Linked DNA regions of Homo sapiens. The protein of the gene in region 1 purifies or fractionates together with the protein of each later gene. This does not show direct contact. Each region holds a gene or a part of one and is shown in the gene's direction. Other genes may lie near its edges.

Region 1 (7,237 bases):
TATTTGTCCCTTATTTTCCCACCATTAAAAGCTCATTTGATGTTCCCTTACATATCCTGCTTAATTTCTCTGAACCTTAATTTCCCTGCTATAGCATAAGTATGTCAGATGGCATCCTTAAGTTTCTTTCTATTGACTGAACACCCCCTCTGGTGTTGTGTTTATAAATAGTGGAGACAAAAATGCAGCAAGACAGGAGAAAGGAAAGCTCTGGATTGTCAACTCATAAAATAATCCAGACTGCGATTACCAACTCCATTTCAGCGGCTGCATCTTTTTTTGATTCTTCTATGGGCTTAAGGTGGTGGTAGTTATATGGGTGAATGTAAAATATCTTTGTGGAATTTTAACTCTACAGATTTTAAATTGTTGATTGGATTGCAGTCTCTTTGTAGTACTGCCTATAGAATATTCTCGGTGCCTACCAAGTATTTGACTACTTCATTCTGGCCTAAATATATGGAATGAATTTAGGTATGAATGTTGCTAACATGATTTCTTGTTGCAGACAAAACTTACCTGGGGTCCCTACTTATGGTTTTACATGCTTCGGGCTGCTACATCAACTCTCTCAGGTATTGCTTTTCTGCTTGAATATTGTATAATTGCTGTAACATGCTTCAGCAACAGGAACTTTGCTAAATAGGATGTTTCCAAACTGAAGGAGAAACAATAGGGAGTTAATCACTGTCCTCAAGAGCTAGCTAGCATTGGGAGATAGTAACCTAACTTGTACTTCACATTAAAACATTCTTCAGCTTCCAATATAGTTTATTTTTTGAGGAATGAAAAATGACTATGTTAGTTTAGATATGGTTTTCAAGTTCTTTTTTTTTTTTTTTTTTTTTTTTTGAGACGGAGTCTCGCTCTGTCGCCCAGGCCGGACTGCGGACTGCAGTGGCACAATCTTGGCTCACTGCAAGCTCCGCTTCCCGGGTTCACGCCATTCGCCTGCCTCAGCCTCCCGAGCAGCTGGGACCACAGGCGCCCGCCACCGCGCCCGGCTAATTTTTTGTATTTTTAGTAGAGACGGGGTTTCACCTTGTTGGCCAGGATGGTCTCGATCTCCTGACCTCATGATCCACCCGCCTCGGCCTCCCAAAGTGCTGGGACCACAGGCGTGAGCCACCGCGCCCGGCCTCAAGTTCTTAAACCCTTTCTCTTAACAGCTATTTTGCTGCTTTGTCATTTGGTTTCCAATTGATAACATTCTCAATCTGTCTCACTGCTTATTCTAAAGCCTGTATTATAGTTAATTTATATTTCTATTTCATTAATATTCCATTTCTTAAATTGAGATGTGACTAAGTCATATTTGAAGGAAATGAATTATCAACTTATAACTTAATAATGCTAATTTAAAATATAGGTTTTAAATTATGAAGCTTTCTTCTGCTTCCATTTTTAACTCCCTCATAGCTTTTTATCACTTTCTGCATTTTATTAGAGCTAATTGTGAATAGTAATTGATTCAACAAACATTTACTGAGCACTGAATATATGCTAGACAGGTTGGTGTAATGGAAAGAGCATGAGCTTGAGATTCAGACCTAGCTTTGAACTTTGGATCTGCCTTATCAGTTTGGGTTAAGTTCTTTAACCTCTCTACGCCTAACCTTTCACAGTACCTGGCACATGGTAGGCACTCAGTGAGTATTATACTACAAGCCATTCCCCTCCTCCAGCCCAGTGATATCCCAGCTTTCTGAGTATACATTTTTCTTTTTTGAGACAGAGTCTTGCTCTTTCATCAAGGCTGGAGTGCAGTGGTGTGATCTTGTCTCACCGTAACCTCCACCTCCCAGTTTCAAGCTATTCTCTTGCCTCAGCCTCCTGAGTAGCTGGGATTACAGGTGCCCACCACCATGCCCAGCTAATTTTTGTATTTTTAGTAGAGATGAGGTTTCATCATGTTGTTCAAGCTGGTCTTGAAGTCCTGACCTCATGTGATTTGCCTGCCTCAGCCTCCCAAAGTGCTGGGATTATAGACATGAGCCGCCATGCCTGGCAGTATACACTTTTCTTAAAGACATAGATATATAACAGATACACCTAGTGATAAGTATTCTAATACAGACATGAAAAGACTTGTTGGGAGTTTTGAAGCCACCGGTACTTCTTGAAGAAAATCAGGGAAGATATACAGAAGATAGATCTATTAGGTTTTTATAATCTCCTTGAGAGCAGGAACAGTAACTCTTGTATTCCTACAGTGTCTTACACATAGAAAGTGCTCAAGAAATGTTTATAGAATTATATAAGTCTTTTAACTTTTGTATTTTCAGTGTGTGACTTCCTTGGAGAGAAGATTGCATCTGTTTTGGGTATCAGCACCCCAAAGTACCAATATGCCATTGATGAATATTATCGGATGAAGAAGGAGGTATGCCTCCTTTTTACATTTTCTTGATTCAGTTTGGTTTGCTATGGACTTGATGGGTTGCATAATGAGCCTATGTATTTTCTAACTGCCCAACATGTAGCTCTCTTATGCTAGGCATTTCATTCTAGAATCATTAATTTCTTTTATCAAAGTAACATACATTTTGGAATTCCTTTAAACTGGAATTTTCCTATGATCTGTGTGCAAAACTAAGCTAGATTTCATTGTCTTAGTGCTATGTGAGATGCCTTATATACATTATTTAATCTTCACATGCCTCTCTTTGGATTATCATTCTAATTCTAAGATGAAGAAACAAGATACTTAGAGCACATGGACTGGATATAGGAAAAGTGGAGTGGGTTTGGCACAGATAAAAATTTAAGTACAAGAAATGTGTATGTGCCAGGTGTTAATGCACAAAAATTTGAGGGCAGTTTAAAAGTAGTGAGGTCTTAAGGTGAGAGTGAAGTGAATTTTGTCTTAAAAAATAAAAGCCTTTAGTGCTTAAGAGCATGGGCTCAAGAACCAAAGGGCTTGAATTCAAAATCCGTTCTACCACTTAAAACTTTGTAACCTTGGACAGAACACTTAACCCCTCTATAAGCCTCAATCTCCTCATCTTTGTAATGAGGAGAATTGCAGCATCCATGCTCGGGGGCTGCTCTACAGATTAAATACATTAATATATAAAATGTTTAGAACAGCACCTAGTGAGCACAACAAATATTGGCATCTGCTATTCTTCAAGCAAATAGAGGGCAGCAATTCAGGTAAAGCTAGAATGTAGAGGCATGAAGGTACATTGTTATGGTTGGGGAAATGGCAAAAATATAATAGTTTATTGTCACTGGAGCATAAGGTACAATGTGGGAGTGACTGGACATGAGCCTGGAAAGGTCAGCTGACTTAATATTTGTCATATGGTTTCAAACCTGTTTTATGAACAAATAAGTATTTCTTAACACTGTAAGCCTTGCTTAGAGCCTCATTACCTCATCTGGGCTATTATACTAGCCTCCTAAATGGTCTCTATTCTCAAGCAAGCCCCAGAGTAATCTTCTGGGGTTACTCACTGTGTACTGACTACCCGTTCTGCAGGGTCCAATACAAATGCCACCTACTCAATGAATTTAGTAGTTCTGCAACTAGAAATTATTTACCCTTTCAAAATCTGTACATCTGTCATAATACTGTTTTTACATGTCTTAACTTCCCTACTAAGTTGTAAACTTCTTGAGGGTAGGTGCTGCCTTATCTATGTATTTGATGCTTATGGGAAAACTAACTATGCTATATATCATGTAGTAAATGAACCAACCTATTCAACCGAATAGACTGACACCCTACAATTGAAGTGATACAGTTGAAGCTAACTTTTTATTTATTTAGCTTAGACTTAATCTGAAAAAAATAAAGTCCTTGTCAAAGTTAATTCAGGTCTCATCTACGTGATGTAGTGCTGGACCCTGTTTTAAAAAGTAACCTCTTTTGGGCTGAGCGCGGTGGCTCATGCCTGTAATCCCAACACTTTGGGAGGCCGAGGTGGGTGGATCACTTGTGGTCAGGAGTTCGAGACCAGCCTGGCCAACATGGTGAAACCCTGTCTTTACTAAAAATACAAAAATTAGCTGGGCGTGGTGGCAGGTGCTTGTAGTCCCAGCTACTCAGGAGGCTGAGGCAGGAGAATTGCTTGAGCCTGGGAGATGGAGGTTGCAGTGAGCCACTGCACTCCAGCCTGGGTGACAGAGCAATACTCTTTCTCAAAAAAAACAAACAACAAGAAAAAACTACTTTCCTTAAAATGTTTTACAGTGGTTATTTCAATTAGAGAGCAGGAGAAGGGAAAGTATGTCTTAATTAGACCAAACTGATTTGAACATGACACTTTTTTTTTTTTTTTTTTTTAAACATAAGCTGACAGTGGGGAAAACAGCACTATATACCTTTTGGACTTTCGTATTTCAACTATTCTTGATATTGCTCCTTTTTTTTAGGAAGAAGAAGAAGAAGAAGAAAACAGGATGTCTGAAGAAGCAGAAAAACAATATCAACAGAATAAATTGCAGACTGATTCCATTGTTCAGACAGATCAACCAGAGACAGTGATATCCAGCTCATTTGTGAATGTCAATTTTGAAATGGAGGGAGACAGTGAAGTAATTATGGAAAGCAAGCAAAATCCAGTCTCTGTCCCACCATAAAATGAAATGACTATCAAGCTTCAAACTCTTAAGTTTTTTTTTTTTAATACAAAAACTTTCACATTCTTTATTCAGTGGGACTTAATACAATTATTTATATTTTAAATTATTAAAGTATCTGGAAAGGGAAAATGTTTTCTTCATTTTTAGGATCTATCTAGCAAAAGCCAGATCTGAAATTCAGATATTTGTACTGTTTTTACTGTGTATAGAAATTAGTGCTTTGGTTTTAAAATGATCTTTTAAAAAAGTTAAGGACATCCTAGAGCCTTAATAGTTAAGAAGAGTTAAATTATCAAGCCTATTTGTGCATTTGCTTTTTTTGAAAAAGGTAAGTTGCTGATTAAGTCTAATTGGAATTGATAATTCCATAGTCTTAGATTAAAATGAGGATATTTTCTCCTAGATTTTCTCATGTTATGCCATGCATTTATATATCTAACCATTAATTTCACACTAAGGATGCTTCACCATATAATAAAAGGAGCAAGATGGAAGCACTTTGAATTTTCTTTCATTGAGAATAACTGTTTTATGTAAGAATCTGTATTTATAACACCAGATATTAAGATAGGCTTCCATTTTTTAATGCAAGCCACTTACTTAATCTTGTATTCTTTTTCAGGACTCAAATAACTAGCTTTGAACATAATATTAAAACACTACTTATAGAATAGATTTATTAATGTTAATACCTAGTGAATATCCATGTGGCATCCTGGTTATGTTATCGGTTCAGCGTTAATCCTATAGAAAAGTGGTTTGGAGGGGATTGGGGGATAGTGGGACAGGTATAGATTTAATCCATCAGGAGCAATTAGATATTGTATAAGGTGCAATGATAGCCTAATGAAATTACCCGTCATTCATCATTTAGAAGTAGCAACAGTGAAGACTGGACAGTTTACTTGAATCTGGTTGGCCACTCCTCTACCTACTTGGTTATTTGTAAACCTTACAAATGTATATATTGTGAAGCTAATTTTGAAAATATTCCTAAATATGGCCAGGTACGGTGCTCACACCTGTAATCCCAGCACTTTGGGAGGCTGAAGTGGGCAGATTACTTGAGGTCAGGAGTTTGAGACCAGCCTGGCCAACGTAGTGAAACCCCGTCTCTACAAAAATACAAAAATTAGCCAGGCGTGGTGGTGCACGTCTGTAATCCCAGCTGCTCGGGAGGCTGAGGCAGGAGAATCACTTGAACCAGGGAGGTGGAGGTTGCAGTGAGCCAAGATTGCACCACTGCACTCCAGCCTGGGCGACAGAGTGAGACTCCATCTTGGGGGGAAAAAAGTATATATATATACACACACACAGACACACACACACACACATATATCTCTAAATGTGTGTATAGAACCTTTTATCAGTATAACATTGATTTATAATTAAATGTGGGTGAGGAAGAATGTGTGGAGTGTTTCAGAAATTTTGATCTTAAAAGCCTTTTCAGAAACTCAAAGCTTTCAGAAATTAATAGTTATATTAATAGCCTTCTAAACAGCATTAAGTTTTCAATTTTAATATATCTATATAAAATATAGTGTCAAAGAAAGTAACATCAATATAGTGGGTCTGTAATGGAAATCTGTCAATGAACATGAACTGAGTTCTTCAACTACAGGTTGAAGGATAATTAAACTTTTCATTAGGAGTGTTCAGCTACATGGATTCATGGAATGGTGGTTCATAGTAAGTGATGGTAATCTTTTTATTCATGGGTGTAAACCCTTTATAACTTAGTGCTTAAAATATTAATCTTTTGATTATATAATGTCCCATGAATTATAGTTTACCAATAGTTCTAAAACATGCTAACCTGACCTTTTCCTTCTAATTTGTTTTTAACTTCATTCGAGATAGTACCTCTCACTCACAGATATTTATTTGGTTATCAAGTGAAGATAGGTGTGTCTAAAAGTGATCTTCTGAATCCTGTCTCCCTAGAGGTACTAGTATCTAGAGTTTACCCAGAAAATTTTATGATTGTAACAAAAGGAAGTAGTGACTTATGAAGGTTTTGTTTCTTGAATTTTACTTTTGCTACTTGTCCAATAGTGGCTAGTTTATGTTTATCAATATAGTTATTCACTGTGCCTTAAGTTTATACTTTGTTTATGCAAACTATAAAATTTCCCATAAATGTATTCAATGGTTTGTCTTACTTTAAGCCTCTTTCACTCACTTTTTCCTATCTCCTTTTCAGTCCTTTTAAGAATTCCAGTTCCAGCTGGGCACGGTGGCCCACGCCTGTAGTCCCAGCACTTTGGGAGGCCAAGGTGGGCGGATCACTAGGTCAGGAGTCCGAGACCAACCTGGCCAACATGGTGAATTAGTAGAGATGGATTTCTACTAAAAATACAAAAATTAGCCGGGCATGGTAGCAGGTGCTTGTAATCCTAGCTGCTCGGGAGGCTGAGGCAGGAGAGTCACTTGAGCCTGGGAGGCGGAGGTTGCAGTGAATGGAGTTTGCACCATTGTACTCCAGCCTGGGCGACACAGCAAGACTCGTCTCCAAAAAAAAAAAAAAAAACAGAATTCCAGTTCCTTCTGGATCATAGTTCATATTTACCTTCTTCTAATCTTTCAGCATCTCATAAAAACTAAATGTAATGTATAACTGAAGTCTTTATCCTGAATTAACATA
Region 2 (7,630 bases), on another chromosome or scaffold:
ACTCCCTCTGTTCAAATTCCAGATCTAGTATGCTGCTAAAAATAGGGATACAGAGGTAGAATTACTTATTCCCTTAAGGAGCTCCCTGACCAACTAGTAGGGTTCACAGATAACTATGATATAAGACTATGTGATAAAATCCATGGGAAAACTACACCAAAGCCCTGTCGGAGTTCAGAGATGAAAAGATCAGAGAAGGCAGCTTCCTCAAGCTGCCTTTGAAGTATCCAGTAGGGTTGAGACATGCAGAAGTATAAGAAAAAGTCAGTTTCGGCCTAGGGAACACCCTGAGTAAAGACACATAGTTAGAAAGCCTAGGATGTGTATGGAAAACAGTTTATAGCCTCATTTGACACTACTTTTCAAGTAGTTTTTGACAAATATTTGAATTACTTGAGGAAAAGTAGTGTCAAATGAGGGTATAAACATCATTGACCAGATCCTAGAAAGTCTGAAATATCAATCTAAAATAAAACTTCATTTTATTTAGCTGATGGTGGGACGCCATTGAAAAAATATTTCAGTCTTTGATCTCCTGAGAAAAGGATTTATTTATTGATGTAGCTAAAGGATGTTGTTATCAGATAGTTTTATTTATAAAGTAGTTTTAAGGTGAAAAGCTAAGGACATGCTAAGCAGACAGTTTCTCAAACAGAAAGGATTGCATATAATGCCAATTTGTTAGCTAATAATATATTTCTATTTTTAGGTATCCAGAATGCTACCAGGGGGACTTTTAGTTCTTGGAGTATTTATTATTACTACTTTAGAACTGGCAAATGATTTTCAAAATGCCCTGCGTAGAGTAAGTTTGATATATCGAAAATTCTTAATGAAATCAGTTATATGTTATTTTTACTGATTATGAGTATGTGTAATGATTCTAGGCATATTTACATTTGTTTTCCATAATTCTTTTTGTTGGGGTTACATTGAAAAAGCTTTTGTCACTCAATTGCTTGGATATCTTGAGTGTAAAAAATGTTTATATTTTTAAAAACTACACATTTTATTTATTATTTTTTCCATGGGTAATTTTATTCTTTATTTAGTACACTACCCAAAACAGGGCTATCATCAGCCCATATGGCATTTCATACAAATTTGAAAAAGCTATTCTTTCCTCAAGTTAAAAAGTTAAATTATTTACTTCTCAATAATAACCATGACTAATGACAGTAATTCCATGTAAATTATGCAAACAAATAATTCATTGTAAAATATTGAAAAATTCAAATGATTAATTATAATATTAAGAACTCAAAGTCACTTGGATCTAATAATTTGTTGTAAAAAAGGCATCTTTGTGGAAGTAATTCTTTTTGACAGAAAAACTACATATTTTAAAATAATCTTTATTTTAGAGGTAATTTCTGACTATTAGGAAACAAATTATAATGCTTTAAACAGTTTTTCTTATGCAATAGCAGTATTCTGTCACACCTTCCATTTAGTACCTAGTGATTACTGTAACATGAAATTAATAGGTGCTGAAATTCTTTACCTTCTTCTCAATTCTCCGGAGATCCTGAGAGTAAAACATAAACAATCAGATTATTCCTGGACACAGTATCTATCAGAAATCTCCTGTGTTTTTTGCTTAATTGCTGCACCAGAGAATTGGGTAACATAGTGTAAAAGTAAATATGAAGGTCCACATGCTGTTTTCCCTTAAACCCAAACCTAAGGTAGATTCTGTGTAGCCAGCTCTTTTAGCATTCAGGATCCACATGAACTTTTTGAAGGGTATTTCATACCCCAAAAGAGGGGGAACCTTAAAATCTTGAGACATATAAAACCCAACCCCAACAGTATCCCAGAAAAACATTTTTTAGGTAAAAAATATACAGCTGAGAACTTCAGATGTTACAGATTTTTTCAGTCTTGTAACCTGTCCTGTCAGATGTCCCAGCCTCAAGCCTTTGATATTTGCACCTAAGGGAGTAAGGGAAGAAAATGGAGATATTCTCCTCCCTGCTAAATTGTTTAACCCTCTGCCAACTTTTCCATCTTAAATAAATTTACCTTGTTTACAATTGTTCATTCTCTTTGGCATTTTGAAATTTAACCGAAATCTATGCGTATTTAATATTAATAGCATTCATTGTGCAACCTTTTTTGGCTGGTGCTGAATTGAGGGGGTTGAATGTGGGCCCAGTGCTAGAGAGATACAGCCAGGCCCACTTTCCTTGCTTTTGTATCTTTTGTTCCTAAAAAGTATATAAAACTTTAGAAATGCTTTATCTCTGACATTACTGAGTTTCAATTATCTAATTGTTTCCACTGGCTACACTGACAAACACTACAAGAAACAGCCTTATAAAACTTGTCAGTGTCACCCATTATTGTTAAGGACTTTATTCATCATATTACATTAATATTGTGTTTCCGGAAGAATTTCTTTTTATATTATGAAGAAGGTTGTGCCTCCTCTGATGATTGTTTTTAGCTTACAGACCATGTGAATTAGGTTACAGATTAGATTTCTCTCTGCACATTATTGTTAGAAAGCTTAGACCGAAATGTATTACCACCCCTTACATCAAGTATGCATTTTTATAATTCTTATTTCTGACACAAATTTATCTCACTATTCTACTTTAACTTTCAATTTGTTATTACTATATTTTATATGTTGTTATATATTGCCTTAAGTCTTGTGTGACGTTTAAATAAGAAATGCTAAATGGGTGACATGCTTGATTTCTTTAGTTAAAATCACTTATCATTTCTCATTCTAATTAAAGTCTCTGTTCTATAGTTTATATAAATTCTAGTTGCCCCAAATTAATTTTTTGTGTCCAGTTAATCTCTAATGATAGTGAATTAAATTTTTTTATTTAAACCCAATTTTTCTGTAATTTCCTAAAAGGAATTCAAAAATGTTAGTAATTAGCTCCAGTCTTTAATTTGAAGAAAAGAAAAATTAATGGTGGCACACACCTGTAGTCCCAGTTACTTGGGAAGCTGAGGTGAGAGAATCACTTGAGCCCAGGTGTTCAAGGCCAGCTTGAGCAACATAGTGAGACCCCTTCTCCAATAAATAAAGAATCATGGAATTTTAAAGCTAAATGAGAGTTGGGGACATTATAATTGCCTATTTCAACACTCATCTTTTTTTTTCATTTTACATTCAATTAGTGTGTATTTTTCTCTCTTTCAGCTAATGTTTGCTGTGGAAAAGTCTATAAATAGAAAGAGATTGTGGAATTTCACAGAGGAGGAAGTCTCAGAACGAGTGACACTTCACATTTGTGCTTCTACAAAAAAGTATCTTTTGTTCAGTTTATGGTTTAAAAGTACAAAGTACCAAAATAATATTCTTGCAAGGTTTTTTTGCTATTTATTTAAATCATCATTTAAAAAATAGGCATAGTTTTGTAAGATTTTTCTGTAAATAACATGGAATTAGAGCCACCAATAATAATAATAGCAATAATGGTTGTTAATCATGTCCCAAGGTGATAAAAAGCTTGAGATCTGTAATATGAAAGACTCAGGATTCTGAATTTTTTACCAGCTATCTGCCCTGTACATCCAAGCACAGCAGATTCCCTACAGAGATAAATGCCTAACTGATGGCTTAGGCAAAGTAATGTTTTTATTATGTTAAAGTTTTCACCTCCAGTTTCTATAGATAAGGATGTACAATTCAAAGCACAGGTGCACAGAGCTGGATGGTATAGGACATCGGAGAAATTCTTATGTCTTTGGCTAAGATGAAATGACACTAAAAGCCAGTTACACGGCCTCTTACCAGGGCAAGAGTACCTCCCAAGCAAGGGTCATCCTCACCAAAGGAGTGACACGATCCATGGACTTCCAAAGACAGAATTTTAAAAGTGACCATTCCTGCAGAAGCAGGGCTTTTTTTTTTTTTAACAACAACAAAAAAAATCTTTAGTATTTAACTGCAAAGTTTCATATACAAGCCCTTTAATCCAATAAATAGTCTCAGGTTTGACCTCATATAAAACAGTGGTACTTTTTCTTATGGAGAGTGTATATTTGAGAAGAATCTCACGAGTGCTTTGATTCTATTTATTGCAATTAGCGGGATTCATAAAAGGTAGGAAATGATTTTCAAGCACCGCAAGTACTATAGTGATAGCAGTTTGTATGTATGATTATATATACACATATGTATATATATGCACACATGTACATATATGTACGCATATCTTTAAAGTGTTATGATTTTGTAAGAACTTTTGGATGCGTGCATTTTTTAGTTTATTTTTTGATAGTTTATATTCTTTTAGTTACCAATAATGCCTTTTTTGGTTATTTCTGTCCTTAATTAGTGAAGAATATTTTGTCGAACTTATGATATCCATGATCCAAAGGTAAGAAATTTACTCTTTAAAGATTTTTCTGTGTCACAAAGTATTTTCAATCAAAATTCAGCTTTTATTTAGTTTTAATAATTTCCATTGCCATCACTTCCTATTGATGCCTACAAACAACTGTAGTTTTTATTTTGAAATATGATTAATTTTATTACAGATAAGGAAAACTTTTTTGTGCGTGACAGGGTCTCACTCTCTTGCCCAAGCTAGAGTGCAGTGATGCAGTCATAGCTCACTGCAGCCTCCACCTCTTGGGCTCGAGGGATCCTCCCACCTCAGCCTCTTGAGTAGCTGAGACTATAGATGTGCACCACTGCACCTGGCTAATTATTTTTGTTTTTTGTTTTTTGTTTTTTTTGATAGAGATAGGGTTTCACCATGTTAGTTATGTTTGTCTTGAACTTCTGGGCTCAAGTGATCTGCCTGTCTTCGCCTCCCAAAGTGCTGAGATTACGGGCTTGAGCCACCACGGCCAGCCAACTTTTTAAAAAATTGTTAAAATATCTTTGTTAATCTCCTCCTACCTTGTTTGTGTATTTAGTTTTATATTTGAGAGGCTGGTAGTAAAAGTGACTGAGGACTTTTGGTAGCTGCACTGCCTATTAAACAAGCTATGTGTATTCAGCAAAACCCAGATTAGCACTTTGCTAATGCATCTAAAAGGGTTGTGAAAAAGTAACTTTGCAGTGTCATTAGCAAGGATGGGACAGAAAGGAGAATGCCTGCCACCTAGGAGTTGCTCAGTGATTATTTGCTTCAGATCAGAATCTTCAGTATTGATACTGTTGAAGCTAGAGGATCAAAGGACCTTTCAGAATTCTAAACATGGAAATTTCTGATTCTTTTTCTGCCTACCATTGGGAGGAGAAGTATTGCCAAGGATGTATTGAAGAGTACTGAACTTAACACATGCTTTATTTTGTGTTTAGTTCAACCTATAGTCTTTTGATCAAGGGTTTAGCCATATATGTTAGATATGAGTTTGTATGCGTTATTTAGGTTGTATATTTAATAATGTTTTGTTGATCCATGTATTTTATCTAGACTACATCATAGTTATTTTTCTCCCTTCTCCACTGCTAGAGTTCAGCAAGACCAGCAGATTGGAAGTATCAAAGTGGATTATCATCCTCATGGCTTTCTTTAGAGTGTACAGTTCACATTAATATTCACATCCCACTTTCTGCTACTTCTGTCAGCTATACTCTGGAGAAAAATACAAAGGTACCAGGGTAAAATGAATTTTCTTCAGTGATTGCTGAGTGAACAATCTGCTTTTATTCTGCTTACATGTGTCATTCATTTTACAATCCTCAAAAATTACATTCTGCTTACAATGTTGTTATGTGAGTAACTTATTACCGCAGCCAAATTAGAAATTTTTAGAAATTTTTAGAAGTGGAACAATGTCATAATACTAGTATATTCAGTTTAATAATAACTAATAATTTAGTTGTTAGACTAAATATACTAGTACTTATTATGTGCTGATTAAGTATTATTATGTGCTTTGTCATTAAACTAAATATAACAGTATTCATTAATTAACATGTAAAATGTAATTAATGTAAGAAGCTATACTGTTTGGACTTTTAGCTTTCTCTTAGTACTTAGGTTTTTTTGTCTTCCTTTTTCCAGTTCTTTTTTGTATTTCTATACCATTCTTTTATTTTTATCTTATTTTTCTTCATTTTTCCCATTGAAGATGTCAAATAGAGCTTTTTTTTTTTATTTTTTAGACTTATTTGATGCTTTTTTCTCACTTTTTTTTTTAAGGTAGTGGGCATTAAATTTTATTTAACTGATCATGTACTTAATAACCTCCTGAGTCTGTGACATAAATGTTATTCTGGGATAAAGATCAGAAAATAACTATTATTAAATATAATAAGGTATCAAGAATGGGGGTATACTTTTTTTTAATTTGTGAAACTAGATTTAAATGCTGCAGTAATGAGATTTAGGGATTTTAATATTTCAATTTATTAGGTGGAACAAAGTAGATTATAGGAAGTTTAATTGAGATGGCATTGTATCTGAAAGATTTCCATGTTGTGTTTCTGTTAAGAATGGACTTACACGCTGGGCCAAGGAAATAGAAAATGGTGTTTATTTGATTAATGGACAAGTTAAAGATGAAGATTGTGACCTATTAGAAGGACAGGTAAGTTAAGAGAAAATCATCTTATTAAATTGTTAGTGCTTAAGGAAAAATAAAACATGACTTATTTTTAGTCCTTGCCTACAAGAAAACTGATTTCATCTACCTCTCATTTCTGATTTCTGATTTAAAGTAAAAGGCAAATGTTTTTCTTAGAAAAACAACCTCATTAAAAAGTAGGCAGAGGATATGAACAGACACTTTTCAAAAGAAGACATACATGCAGCCAAGAATCGTATGAAAAAAAACTCAGCATTACTATCGGTAGAGAAACACAAATGAAAACCACAATGAGATACCATCTCACACCAGTCAGAATCGCTGTTATTAAAAAGTCAAAAAATAACAGATGCTGGCAAGGCTGCAGAGAAAAAGGAATGCTTATAAACCGTTGGTGGGAGTATAAATAAGTTCAACCATTGTGGAAGGCAGTGTGTTGATTCCTCAAAGACCTAAAAACAGAGATACCATTTGACCCAGCAATCCTATTACTGGCTATACCCTCAAAGGAATATAAATTGTTTTATTGTAAAGACACATGCATGCATTATGTTCATTGCAGCACTATTCACAATAGCAAAGACATGGAATCAACCTAAATGCCCATCAATGACAGACTAGATAATGAAAATGTGGTACATATACACCATGGAATACTGTGCAGCCATTAAAACAGAACGAGATCATGTCCTTTGCAGGAACATGGATGGAGCTGGAGGCCTTTATCCTTAGAAAACGAATGCAGGGGCCAGGCATGGTGGCTCATGTCTGTAATCCCAGCACTTTGGGGGGCCGAGGTGGGTGGGTCACTTGAGGTCAGGAGTTTGAGACCAGCCTGGTCAACATGGTGAAACCCTGTGTCTACTAAAAATACAAAAGTTAGCTGGGCATTGGTGGCAGGTGCCTGTAATTGCAGCTACTTGGGAGGCAGGGGCCAGGCGTGGTGGCTCATGCCTGTAATCCCAGCACTTTGAGGGGCCAAGGTGGGCAGATCACTTGAGGTCAGGAGTTCAAGACCAGCCTGGTCAGCATGGTGAAACCCTGTCTCTACTAAAAATAACAAAAATTAGCCGGGTGTGGTGGCAGGTGCCTGTAAGCACAAGCTACTCGGGGTGCTGAG

What was found. Proteins that work in one complex are often made in the same cells at the same time.
Region 2: the proteins of FAM177A1 (region 1) and ODR4 purify together in Homo sapiens (affinity purification with mass spectrometry; 3 studies listed by BioGRID and IntAct, with this or other methods). This does not show direct contact.

Annotation. Positions count from the first base shown.
Region 1 is NC_000014.9:35,076,642-35,083,878, forward strand, and holds the end of FAM177A1 (protein FAM177A1 isoform 1 precursor), read left to right. Parts: intron 1-508; coding exon 509-575; intron 576-2,285; coding exon 2,286-2,383; intron 2,384-4,380; coding exon 4,381-4,587; 3' UTR 4,588-6,737; downstream 6,738-7,237.
Region 2 is NC_000001.11:186,385,279-186,392,908, forward strand, and holds part of ODR4 (protein odr-4 homolog), read left to right. Parts: intron 1-709; coding exon 710-805; intron 806-3,163; coding exon 3,164-3,270; intron 3,271-4,309; coding exon 4,310-4,346; intron 4,347-5,432; coding exon 5,433-5,573; intron 5,574-6,417; coding exon 6,418-6,513; intron 6,514-7,630. UniProt on the Homo sapiens protein: May play a role in the trafficking of a subset of G-protein coupled receptors.